Homo sapiens: one gene and its partner. The protein of the gene in region 2 binds, or shares a complex with, the protein of the main gene of each other region. Each region holds a gene or a part of one and is shown on either strand. Other genes may lie near its edges. The genes, in order: NELFE and NCBP1. A codon is read from its position in the direction of its gene.

Region 1 (4,463 bases), on a different chromosome or scaffold from region 2:
GAGAATTGCTTGAACCCAGGAGGCGGAGCTTGCAGTGAGTCGAGATTGTGCCACTGCACTCCAGCCTGGGTGACAGCGAGACTCCGTCTCAAAAAAAAAAAAAATTAGCAGAATGTGGTGGTGCACACTTATAGTCCCAGTTACTGAGGAGGCTGAGGCCAGAGAATCACTTGAACCCAGGAGGCAGAGGTTGCAGTGAGTGGAGATCACACCACTGCACTCCAGCCTGGACGACAGAGCAAGATTCTGTCTCAAAAACAAAACAAAACAAGCCACAATGGCAGGTGCGGCAATGGCTCATTCCTGGTTAATTTCAGCACTTTAGGAGGCCGAGGTAGGAGGATTGCTTGAGCCCAGGAGTTTGAGACCAGCCCTGGCAACATAGTGAAACCCTATCTCTACAAAAAAAAAAAAAAATACAGAAATTAGCCAAGCATGGTAGAGCACATCTCTAGTCCCAGCTACTAGGGAGGCTGAGGTAGGAGGATTGCTTGAGCATGGGAGGTCAAGGCTGCAGCAAGCTACGATTGCTCTATTGCACTCCAGCCTGGACAACAGAGCAGGACCGTGTCTCAAAAAAAAAAAAAAAAAATAAGTAAAACCACGTCAAATAAGAAATGTATGTAGAATTAAAAGGGAAGAAAAGATCAGAGGAAACCTAGAAGAGGGTGAGGGAAGAGGAACACCTCTGGTCCATGGTTGGGCAACCTCCTGCTCCACACTGAGGTAGGTCTCTCACCACTCCAGGACCCCGAGAAGGGACCAGTCCCCACTTTCCAGCCGTTCCAGAGGAGCATATCTGCTGATGATGACCTGCAAGAGGTAAAGGCTCCTAATTTCTGTCCCTGAGGGGTTGGGGATGGAGGAATATGAGAGACAAATATATTTTGGACCACATGTCAGCAACTGGAAATCATCTTAACTGTTCTTGGTCTCTTTTACAGTCATCCAGACGTCCCCAGAGGAAATCTCTGTATGAGAGGTTAGAGAGTAGAGATAAGGCTGGGCCCATTTGGTGGAGTTGATTGCCTGAGTCCTTGGGAGGTTTGGGCTGTAGGAGCTGGGCTATAGAGGGAATATTGAGTCTCCACAGGGTCTGAGGGGAGAAGGTAAAACCCCCCTTTGATCTTCAGTCTGCATCTCCCCAGCTTTGTGTCTTCTAGTGATCGACTTCGAGAACTAGGACCAGATGGAGAAGAGGCAGAGGGCCCAGGGGCTGGTGATGGTCCCCCTCGAAGCTTTGACTGGGGCTATGAAGAACGCAGTGGTGCCCACTCCTCAGCCTCCCCTCCCCGAAGCCGCAGCCGGGACCGCAGCCATGAGAGGAACCGGGACAGAGACCGAGATCGGGAGCGGGATCGAGACCGGGATCGAGACAGAGACAGAGAGCGGGACAGGGATCGGGATCGGGATCGAGATCGAGACCGGGAACGGGACAGGGATCGGGAGCGGGATCGAGACCGAGACCGAGAGGGTCCTTTCCGCAGTGAGTGATTTTGGCTGGAGGTCAAGGTGACCTTAACTGAGGTTTATGTGGGTCCTACTAAGTGAAATGTGGCATGGTCTATGTCTTGTGACTATGATTTGTGCTCCCAAAGGGTCGGATTCATTCCCTGAACGGCGAGCCCCTAGGAAAGGGAATACTCTCTATGTATATGGAGAAGACATGACACCCACCCTTCTCCGTGGGGCCTTCTCTCCTTTTGGAAACATCATTGACCTCTCCATGGACCCACCCAGAAAGTAAGGATGACAACAGGGCATGATGAGAAGTCCTGGGAGAATCCTGGGGTGTGAGACCTGAGGGAAGAAGCTGCCCTCCCTGCAGCCGCCTATTATCACTGGGTTTGGTTGGGTCCAGAAGAGCCCCTTGGCTCTCCACTGACCGTGTTTTCTCTTATCCCAGCTGTGCCTTCGTCACCTATGAAAAGATGGAGTCAGCAGATCAGGCCGTTGCTGAGGTTGGAACTTCCCAAATCTGTTCTTCCCATCGCTTCTGCTGTTCTCATGTGTTCTCCTCAAAATACTAGATGCCAGGAAGAAGTTGGTTCCTCTTGATAAAGAAAGCCTCTCCCTATTCACACAGAAAAACTCACATTCTCAGATTCCTTATTCAGTCTCCTCCTAGGATAGCAACTCCTGGAATAACTTCTTTGGTTTATCTGTAATGTTTTCCTCCCCATCCTCTGCCTCCCCTCTTCTGCTTCAGCTCAACGGGACCCAGGTGGAGTCTGTACAGCTCAAAGTCAACATAGCCCGAAAACAGCCCATGCTGGATGCCGCTACTGGCAAGTCTGTCTGGGGCTCCCTCGGTAAGAATGGGATTCTTCCTTTCCCATCCTCTCCCCCACAGGCCATTCCTTTTGGTTCCCCCACACATCCTTGGGTTTCCTAGAGATGATCGAGGTCAGAGTGTGTGCGGAGGCTATGGGAATGGGAAGGAAAATTTCAGATCCTCTGTCAGTTAGAGGTAAAGAAAGGAGAGAAAAGGATTGAAAACAGCTTCCAAAGCAGTGACTGGAACAGGGAAGAAAGTGGGAGCTGGAGTGAGATTGGTGAGGAAGATGAGTGTCTCATGGGGCTTGTTCATTTTGAGATGGAGTAGAGTGAGTTTCATAAGTATTCGAAATCAGGGATCTGGAACTCAGGTGTGAGGTAAGGAAGGAAAACATAGATTAAGTCATCCACATCACAGGGTGGCTGCCAAACAATAGGATCATCAGGGAGACTCTGATTTCAGAGAAAAAAAAACGACCCAGGACTCAGTTTGAGGAGTACTCTGGGACTATGTTAGGAAACAGGACTGTTCACCTCACACCCCACATGTCCCCAGCTGTCCTGACATGTTAGGCTAACGTTGAGCCTAACGTTAGCAAAGGAGACAGGAGGAGGGGTCGGAGGGCTGGGAGCAGCACCGCAGGGGCCTGGGCCACTGAAGCAAAAGGACACACACTTTGAGAAAGAGGGAGTAGCCAGCAGTGTTGAGGCACAGAGATCACAGGATGGGAGTGGGTGAGAGAGATTCTCTGTAGCTCAAGGGTGGTGGGGATGGAACCATTGGATGGGGTGAAGAGAGTAACATGTCTGGTGGAGGGAGGAAAGAGGAAGGGGAAGAAACAGCTAGAGGCTTGAGAGAGAATGGTGAGGGCCAAAGCTACACCCTGAATGAGTTCTGGTGGAGCTAGTAGCATTTCTTAGTGTGAATAATCCATTTTCCCTGAAAGTAGATTTTCCTGGGAAAGGAGTGAGCAGAAAGAAGGGCTCAGCTACAGTGGCCCTTCAGGCAAAAGAAAGGAACTAGAATTGACCAGCATGTCAAAAAAGGGCTACAGAGGTTTTCTAGTTTTTAGCTTCTGACATACTGACTGTAAGTAGTGGGTTAATATCATTCACGTGTCTCAACAATGACATTTGGGATTTTTCTAAGAACAAAACATTCATCAAAATGTCCACTTATACTTTTCTTGGCCATGGGTTGGCACAAAGGAGCTAAGGAAGACAGGCCATCCTGGCCACCAGAGGGCAGCGTGGAAACTGGGCTTCCAGGGGCCAGTGGCCAGGAGTGAGGTGGTCAGGAGTCAGCCTCAGGGTCTGTTCTATGATCTCCTTTAGACCTTAACTGTTCCTCTCCTCCCTCCCTAGCTGTCCAGAACAGCCCTAAGGGTTGCCACCGGGACAAGAGGACCCAGATTGTCTACAGTGATGACGTCTACAAGGAAAACCTTGTGGATGGCTTCTAGGGAACAGAGCTGGATTCCTTGTGCCTCATATGCCCCAATGCTGGTCTCAGTAAAACACTGAGGTGGAAGCTTACACATCTCCCTCAGCCTCTGGTTTTTCAGCACTTGGGATTGGGGTTAAACCTTTAAAAACGGCTGTCAGGTTTGATCTCAGTGTAACAACATGGCCAGTGCCTGTTCCCCACTCCCTTGCCCCAAAAGGATCTGGAACACAGGTGTTGTCGCAGCTGTTTTAATTCAATCCCACGCCCCTGTCCAGCAGGAAACCCCTTATAGAAAACCCAAATCCTCATCTTGGAGTTTCTCCTTCAGCCAGGGCAGCACTTGAAAGAGGTTGATGTGAAAGTCTCGGGCGTGAGCAGGTACCTGCTTTTGCCGCTTCTGGTTTTTGCAGACATCCACTACTCCCCAGCTGATTACACCAACCTGCAGAGGCAGTGGGGTGCCATGGATCATTCAGTAGAATTCCTAATCCTGGAAGCATGGCTGTTCCTGCTTGTGTCTTAGCTGACCTAAAGGAATCAGACTAGGGACCCAGCTCAGCCTCGTTCTTGACACACGCAGGCAAGACATGCGGTCCTAAGGTGAGGCAGGCTCTGCCTACCTCGAATTACTAGCCACATGCATTGAGCTTTCCTGCTTTGGGGCCCATGCTGACCACTTGGCATCTCCCCAGATAGGAAAGGGAGGACTCACTTGAATGAAACGACTTCTCTTGTGAAC
Region 2 (7,962 bases):
TTCTCCCTCACAGAAATCTCTCCCCTCTTTACCTGGTATCACTCCATAGCGCCTGTCACTATATGATACACTATACTTTACTTGACTGTCTTCTCTCTACTCTAGAGGGGAGGCTCTATCTTTATATTGTCCACTGCTGTATGGCAAGTAATTAGGACAGAGCTTGGCACTGTTAAGTATTTGTTGAATAAATGATTTTATATATATATATATATATATATATATATATATATATGTATTACTTTCCATATGCTTGCTTCTATATATACAGTATATAATTATATGTAAAATATATATTAGAGTATATATTTATATAAAACTTATAATAAACAAACTTATATAATATATAAATATAAATTTATAATATATAAATATAAATTTATATAATATATAAATATATATAATACATTCTATTATAGTTTATATATATACACACACTCTATATATAGAGAGTCAAGCATACGGAAAGTCAGGGCAGTGACTGACAGCAGCTGACAATTGTCCAGAAATGCTCAGATGCATCTATTTAATTCTGACTGTAATAATTCCTACCCTATTTTAAAATAGCCTTCTATAATCCTTAAGCTTCTAAGATTTATTTTTTAAAAAATAGATTTTTAACTAAAAGGAAAGCATCCAAAATAATCTGATTCAGATCACTGTGTAGGGTAAACTCCAGCGATCGTTATCCAAATTGTGGCAACTGACAAAAATTTCAGATTTGCTGTATTATCAAACATGAATTGTATCTGCCTCTCCCACACTAAAATATCAACCATAAAAACCTTTGCTTAATGAATGCTTTGTTTTACTTGTCTTATTTACTCTGAGGTTCTCGCGGCAAGACCCAAATGGACAGTGATTTGGCTGCCAGCTGGTGTTAAAAACAAGCCAACTCCAAGAAAGTTATGTAAGTCTCCCAATAACCAAAGCAAAAGTTATTTTTCTACATATTAGCATTCCAATTCTCTAGGATGCCCTACAATGACATTTCCTCTCTCTTTAGGGATTACCTCTAAGTGAGAAAAAGGAAGCATTAGAACAACAAAGAAAAGAACAAAAGACTCAAGTTCTCCAGCCCCCAAGTAATGACTTGAGAAGTATATTAGTTTTTGACTAGTCAATTACAAAGCATATGAAAATTGTATTATCGGCGGGCGCAGTAGCTCACATCTGTAATCCCGGCACTTTGGAAGGCCGAGGCGGGTGGATCACCTGAGCTCAGGAGTTCAAGATCAGCCTGGGCAACGTGGCGAAACCCCGTCTCTACAAAAAATACAAAAACAAAAAAAAAATTAGCCGGGCGTGGTGGCCCGCGCCTGTGGTCCCAGTTACTTAGGAGGCTGAGGTGGGAGGATCACTTGAGCCTGAGAGGCGGAGGTTGCAGTAAGCCGAGATCGCGCCACTGCACTCCAGCCTGACAAAGAATGACACTCCGTCTCAGAAAAAAAAAAAAAAGGGAGGGAATTGTATTTTCTGTGCCTTGTACAGAGGTTACACAAGAAACCTCGTGTTAGAAATCAAAGCACGCAGCATAGTTATTTAATTTATACCTGTGTAGTGAAGAGAGCCCCGGACTGGATTCGCTCTTGCTGGTGTTTGGGAACTGACAGCTGTCCCTCCATCTTAGTTATGCTCAGTCTCTAGACCCTTAGGTGTCAGATAGAAAGCTGGACTAGAATATCCTCTCAAGCCATTCCTTCGTAGAAATCTGGTGTTTCACTATTAAAACTAAATGCATGCGATTCTGCCTCCACCTCAACTGCCACAACACTCAAGGAGAGACAAACGTTAGTAGATAAAATTTACTCAATTTAAAATGTCTGTTATGGGTTTTTTTCTTACATTGACAGCATCTGCTAACGTTTACCGCCTCTTAAGCGTTGGCAAATGATAAAACATCATTGTTGCTGATGTGTATTACCTCATTTAACCTTCACAAAAACCAGAAGATATAAATATCATTACTTCTGTATTACAGACTAAAGTTTAAGGAGATTTCATAACCTGGACAAGATCACCAAGTAAATGGTAGGGTCTGGCTTTGAACCTAAACCCTCTGGTTCCAAAGTCTCATCTCTTAACCACTACTATACACTCTCTTCAAAAAACAATACACTAAAATGTTAACAATAGAATTACTCTAAGTTTTACTTTTTTGGTGTGTGGATTTGTGTTTTTGACCGATTGTAAGGCTTATGTGTAATATAAGCATCTTTTTTTTGTTGTTGTTAAAACTAGAATTATTCCATCTTTATGAAGGCAACACTGATCTCCACGAGCACAATCATCCAAACGGAGATGGGAACCCCTGTTCTAACTCTCTCAGAGGCCTGAAGTTAGTTTTCTAGCACTCTCTCTCACACAAGGGAAATGCGCTTACGGCCAGTTCAAAATCTGCAGTAACCTGTGTCTGTTTATTAGGGACCTCTTGGGCGCAGGTAAGACAATATTCTTTCCCTGCAGCTTGAAAGAAGTGAAATCAACGGATAACCACTACCGGAACAGAGTTCAGACTGCAACTCATGAGATCTCTCAGTCCTTTCCTTCAGTGAATTCTTCCGAGCCCTTTTCAGGTGCAGCTTTGAAGGTTAAAACGAGACACTAGGACCAGTGGGTCCCTAAGAGGCGGCAGCACAGACACAGGTGTGCTTCCCTGCTCCGTGGTTTTACGGACGAAATTCTGAAGCATCCTTAGAGACCAAGGGTCTACCCATGGGGTTCACCAGGCCTTCTTTCCCGAGGATCGGCCCTTGACTCAAAGAACTGGGGCGGGGGAGAAGTCGCTTTCTAGAAGCCGCCCGACCACACCGCCACCATATTCTCCTCTTTCCCTCCGCGGCTCCCCGCACGTTCCCGGGGAGAAGAGCTTCCAGTCTCTTCCGTGGACACCCAAAGACGCCGAGCCTCGGCTCCCAACCGGGAGCGGCCTCCGTGGCCGGGCCGCAGGCACTCACCGTCGTTCTCGTCGCTGTGCCGCCGCCGCGACATGCTGCCCTCCGGTGCGCCGCGGAACCGAGAGGCCAGGCGGTAAGCGCTGCAGGAACTGTCTGGCCGCTGGCCGACGCAAGGACAGCTGCAAGGCGCGCGGATGGGCCGGCACGCAGGCGCACTAGCTCGCCACGGCCCCGGAAGCGCAGGAGAGGCCGCCGGGTGGGGCTAGGCGCTGCGACAGCCGGCGTGAGGAAGCTCAGTGGGCTACGAACGTCTGGCACACATGCAACCGCCCCCTCGGGCTGCCTCCGCCTGCCGGCTACTTCTTTCTCCCGCCTTCCGCTCTATGTCCTTCCGGGGCCACGCAGAAAGTGCCGCCGCTTTGGCCACTCAGAGCCCCCGGGCCGCGGTCGTCGTACGCCTGAAGGCGGGTCGTGCCGGCGGCCGCTCTAGTCTCCGCCTCCGCTCAGGCCGGTCCTCCGGGGCTTCTCAATGGTTTCCCGGTGGCCTCTCAATGGTTTTCCCGGCGGCCCTTGCGCCGACGCCAGGAGACTTCCGGAGCTTGGTGACGTCACGAGCGAGCTTTTCTACCCAAATACGCGGCGGGGGAATAGGCTCGAGGGCGGTGAGCAGTGACAATTGCTAGGCGGAGACAGTGCAGGGAAGAGAGACCTTAGAAAGGATCAGGACTGGCGGGTATGTGCTCATCTACTCCCACTTTCCGGCTTTTGCCGCCTTGGGAAAAGTGGGAGGAGAGGTTGGGCCAAGCTCGGCATGCGGGGTGGGGCCTGGGCGGGAGGCGGTGCCGCACGTGCCGCCCCTTGGTATGGAAAGGCCGGCCCTGACGCGAGCGTGCGGCTCCGGGCTTGCCGGCTGGCCGTCATTTTCCTTAAGTTGTTTGCTTAGGAAGGAACAAATGATTGTTTTAGTAATCTGTTTTCAAGGGTTATTGGGTACCTATATGCCTGTGTGTGAGCGTCCCCTCCCCTGATGTCTTTATGAGCACCATACTGGCTTATCTGCTTTGTCCATGGCCATCTGAAATTTCACTCTCCCGGCCTAATTCTCCTTCGGTCTTACCCATTTCAGTAAATGACGTCATCCGTCGGCCGCTTAATCCAAAAATTTAGAGTCTTTCTTAGCTCTTTTCCCTCTTTTTACATAACAATTATCTGTAAACCCTGCCTGCTCTGCTTTCAACACAAATCCAGAATCAGATCGTGTTACTGCTTTGTTTAAAAGTCTCCTATGACGGCCGGGCGGGGTAGCTAACGCTTGTAATCCTAACACTTATGGGAGGCCGACGCGGGCGGATCCGCTTGAGCCTAGGAGTTCAAGACCCACCTGGGCAACAAGGCGAACACCGTCTTTACAGGAAAAAAAAAAAAATTAGCTGAGCCTAGTGTTTGGCGCCTGTAGTCCCAGTTACTCGAGGGGAGGGTTGGGGGCCGAGGTGGGAGGATCCCTTGAGCCCAGGAGGTCGAGAATGCAGTGAGCGGTGATCGCACACTGCACTCCAGCCTGGGCAACAAAGTGAGACCGTGTCAAAAAAAAAAAGTCTCCTACGACTTTCCATTGCACACTCCATGCCATGGCCTGTGGGGTTCTACTTCTCCTCACTGTACTCCAACCACTCTTTCTGTTCTTACAATAAGTCAAGCTTGTTCTTATTTTAGGAACTTATACTATTTCCTTTACCTGAAGGTCTCTGGTTCTAAATCTGCGTGGCTGGCTCTTGGTCACTTAGGTCTCAGCTCAAATGTCAGGTCCTTAGTGAGGCCTTCTTTGGTTACCCAATCACTGTTTTATTTCATTCAACGAATATTATATTTATTAGCATTTAGCACCTCCTAGGTGCCAGGCAGAGTTCTGAATGCTGAGGATGTAGAGGTGAACAAAGGAAAACCCCTGCTCTCTTGGCGCTGATATATTCTAACGACCCATTCAGGAATACCCACAAATAGTGCCATCATAGGTAGTGAGCAACGGGAGAGTGGTAGATGAGATCAGAGAGGTAGGGGGAAGGTGCTCTGTGAGGACTTTGGACATTATCCAAGTGAATTGAGAAGTCATTGGAGTATGATTTTTTTTTTTTGAGACAGGGTCTCGCTCTGTTGCCCAGGCTGGAGTGCAGTGGCACGGTCTTGGCTCGTTGTAACCTCTGCCTTTTAGGTTCAGGCAATTCTTGTGCCTTAGCCACCCAAGTAGCGGCAATTACAGACATGCGCCACCACACCAGGCTAATTTGTATATTTTTAGTAGAGATGGGGTTTCGCCATGTTGGCCAGGCTGGTCTTGAACTCCTGGCCTCCCAAAGTGCTGAGATTACAGGCATGAGCCTCTGTGCAGGGCCAGTCTGACTTATTTTTTTAATAGTTACTTCTCATGCTCCCAAAGGAGGAAGATAGTTCAGCTTTTGCAGTAATTCTAGCTGCAAATGATAGTAGCTTGAACTAGGGTGGTAGTAAAGATGGTGGTGCAAAGTGATCTGATTGGATTGTACTTCAAAAGCAAAGCTGGCCAGGCATGGTGGCTCACCCCTGTAATCCTAGCACTTTGGGAGTCCGAGGTGGGTGGATCACAAGGTCTGGAGATTGAGACCATCCTGGCCAACATGGTGAAACCCTGTCTCTACTAAAAAAAAAAATACAAAAATTAGCTGCGTGTGGTGGCGTGCAGCTGTACTCCCAGCTACTCGGGAGGCTGAGGCAGGAGAATCGCTTGAACCTGGGAGGCGGAGGTTGCAGTGAGCCGAGATCACCCCACTGCACTCCAGCCTGGTGACAGAACGAAAACCGTCTCAAAAAAAAGTATTTTCTGAACAAGTGAATGATAGTGTGAGAAAATAAGGAGTCAGGAATCATCCCAAAGTTTTTTTTGTCTGAATAACAGGAAGAATAAAATTGTCTTTTACTCAGATAAGGAAGACTGGGGAAGACGAAAGTTTGGTTTTGAACAGTTGTATTTGAAGCTGAAGCTAGCTGGCTTCACACACAGTGTAAAATTCACACACAGTGGGGTATATGAATTTGTAGTTTGGGAGAAAGGCCCAGGTTGAAGATATAAATATGGAGTCATTTATTATATAGTATTCTAAACAGAAAATTTCCTTTATGTTTCCCTTTTTTCTTTTCTCATGTAATTTTCAAATATTTACAGAAGTAGGGAAAATTTATGATGAAACCCCATGTACTCATCATCAACTTCAGTAATTCTTAATTCATGGGTAATCTGGTTTCATTGATATTACCTCCTCTCTCTCAATTATTTTGAGGCAAATATAGTTTTAAGTCCTTGGAAGTAGATGAGATCACCTGTAGGGTAAGTATAGATAGAGTGGTTCAACATTTAGAGGTTGGGGTAATAAGGAAGATCCAGCAAAGGAAACTGAGAAGCAGGGGCCGTTATCCCTAGCTGGTATTTTCATGATTTGTTTGTTTGTTTGTTTGTTTGTTTATTACTTACTTAATGTCTCTCCTTACCAGAATATAAGCTCCAAGAGAGCAGGTACTTCAACTGTTTCATTCATAGCTGCATTCCCAGGACTATTCCATGGGCCCGGCACATAGCAGAGGTGCCACAAATAATAATAATTCAGAGTATGTACATAAATCAAAATAAGCTGAGACTGAAAAAAGATGCAGAGTCGGAGGAGATCATTTTGGGGTGGTGGGAAAGGCACCCCACACTCAGGTGCAGAGACCTTGAGTCAGGAAAGAACATGGCTCATTTGTGGAACTGGGCATGGTCCAGTGTGGCTAGAGTAGGATATCTGATGGGGAATGGGGAGCATAGTCAGAGATGAGCCTAGAGTATAGGGAAACTAAGTTTTTCAGGCCTTCAAAGGAAGCAGTGACACAGGGTAGCAGACAAGACATAAGTGAAAGGTGACACTTGAGTTCAGTCTTCATATACATAGTAAGCATATGGGGAGGGAAAGAAGTGAAAAAGTAAGGGAAACAAAGCAGTGGAAAGCATAAATGCTGGGACAGACTACATCAGGTCATATAGAGGGAGATTGGAAAAGATGCTGGAGGTGGGACCGGATTGGATAGTAATTCCTTTCGACAATGTTACCTCCCAAATGTACTGCCCTTATAGGTAAATAAGTTATCTGTTTCTAGAACAATGCCTGGAACCTAGAAGACCCTCCATAAATATTTGTTGAATGAATTTTAATTTGGAAATGATATATGTACTTTCTCTACCTTTACAATAAAACAGCTTTGAGCATGGAGGAAGTGTGTTGAATAAGATTCTTCTACTTATTTTACTTCTGCCTGGAAGGCTTACAGGTTTGTGTAGAGTTAGGGATGTACTTTTTTCAGTGGGACTTTATATGAAAGACATTTTCATGAGAAAGGAAAGAGAAGCTAAAGAAGGTAGTATTTCTTCACCCAGTCTCTTCCACTTATTTTTCAAATACAAGAGAATTTAGGTTTAATAAATCTGTATTACCTTGCCTTACCCTTATAACAAAGCTCATTTTGAGCCCCATGAAAGCACCACTTAGCTGATTCAAATGCATTTTATGTGGTGCAAGTGACATCTTAATTTATGAATCCAAGGAACAAAGGTCCTTTATAAGAAAGTTGGTATTGCCTGTGTGTGTCTGTGTATGTTTAGTCTCCATCAGTCCTATCCAGCATTGTTAACAAGCAGTGTGTGTTCCCCCACACATAAACTGCTCCTTGTTGCCTTCACCTGGTTGAGGTACCCTGTAGGCAGAGTTGTGAATTGGCAAAGTTTGTCACCAGTGTCTCCCACCTTCCTTTCTCTCATTCTTAGTGGTGCTTTTTCTGCTCCCTCTTGTGGAGTTTGGGACTACTTTGCATGTTACTATTTTCAGAACCTTCAGTGTCCACCTCTGGCTGCCTCCTTCAATATTGTCCTGAAGAAACTAACTTTGCCAGTTCACTAGTAATATGAAATAACCAGTTGTTATGTTGTGGGGCAGGAATTTGGACAGGGCACAACAGGGACACCTTGTCTCTGCTCTCAGCTCAGAGGCCAATCTGGAATCTGAAG

What was found.
Region 1: the proteins of NCBP1 (region 2) and NELFE are in contact, whole or in part, in a crystal structure (PDB 5OOB), measured with the Homo sapiens proteins. Residues at the interface, in NP_002477.1 of Homo sapiens: Tyr461, Lys511, Lys557, Ser558, Ser560, His561, Ser564, Lys568, Ile609, Arg610, Gln612, Cys616, Lys647, Met648, His651, Glu705; in NP_002895.3 of Homo sapiens: Arg362 (codon at 3,681), Ile365 (codon at 3,690), Val366 (codon at 3,693), Tyr367 (codon at 3,696), Ser368 (codon at 3,699), Asp370 (codon at 3,705), Val371 (codon at 3,708), Tyr372 (codon at 3,711), Gly379 (codon at 3,732), Phe380 (codon at 3,735).

Annotation. Positions count from the first base shown.
Region 1 is NC_000006.12:31,951,578-31,956,040, reverse strand, and holds the end of NELFE (negative elongation factor E), read left to right. Parts: intron 1-747; coding exon 748-822; intron 823-944; coding exon 945-982; intron 983-1,148; coding exon 1,149-1,486; intron 1,487-1,598; coding exon 1,599-1,743; intron 1,744-1,906; coding exon 1,907-1,961; intron 1,962-2,209; coding exon 2,210-2,312; intron 2,313-3,642; coding exon 3,643-3,740; 3' UTR 3,741-3,954; downstream 3,955-4,463. Other genes in the region: CFB (complement factor B preproprotein), read right to left, coding at 4,011-4,166, 4,437-4,463. UniProt on the Homo sapiens protein: Essential component of the NELF complex, a complex that negatively regulates the elongation of transcription by RNA polymerase II.
Region 2 is NC_000009.12:97,628,911-97,636,872, reverse strand, and holds the start of NCBP1 (nuclear cap-binding protein subunit 1), read right to left. Parts: upstream 3,053-7,962; 5' UTR 2,992-3,052; coding exon 2,958-2,991; intron 1-2,957. UniProt on the Homo sapiens protein: Component of the cap-binding complex (CBC), which binds cotranscriptionally to the 5'-cap of pre-mRNAs and is involved in various processes such as pre-mRNA splicing, translation regulation, nonsense-mediated mRNA decay, RNA-mediated gene silencing (RNAi) by microRNAs (miRNAs) and mRNA export.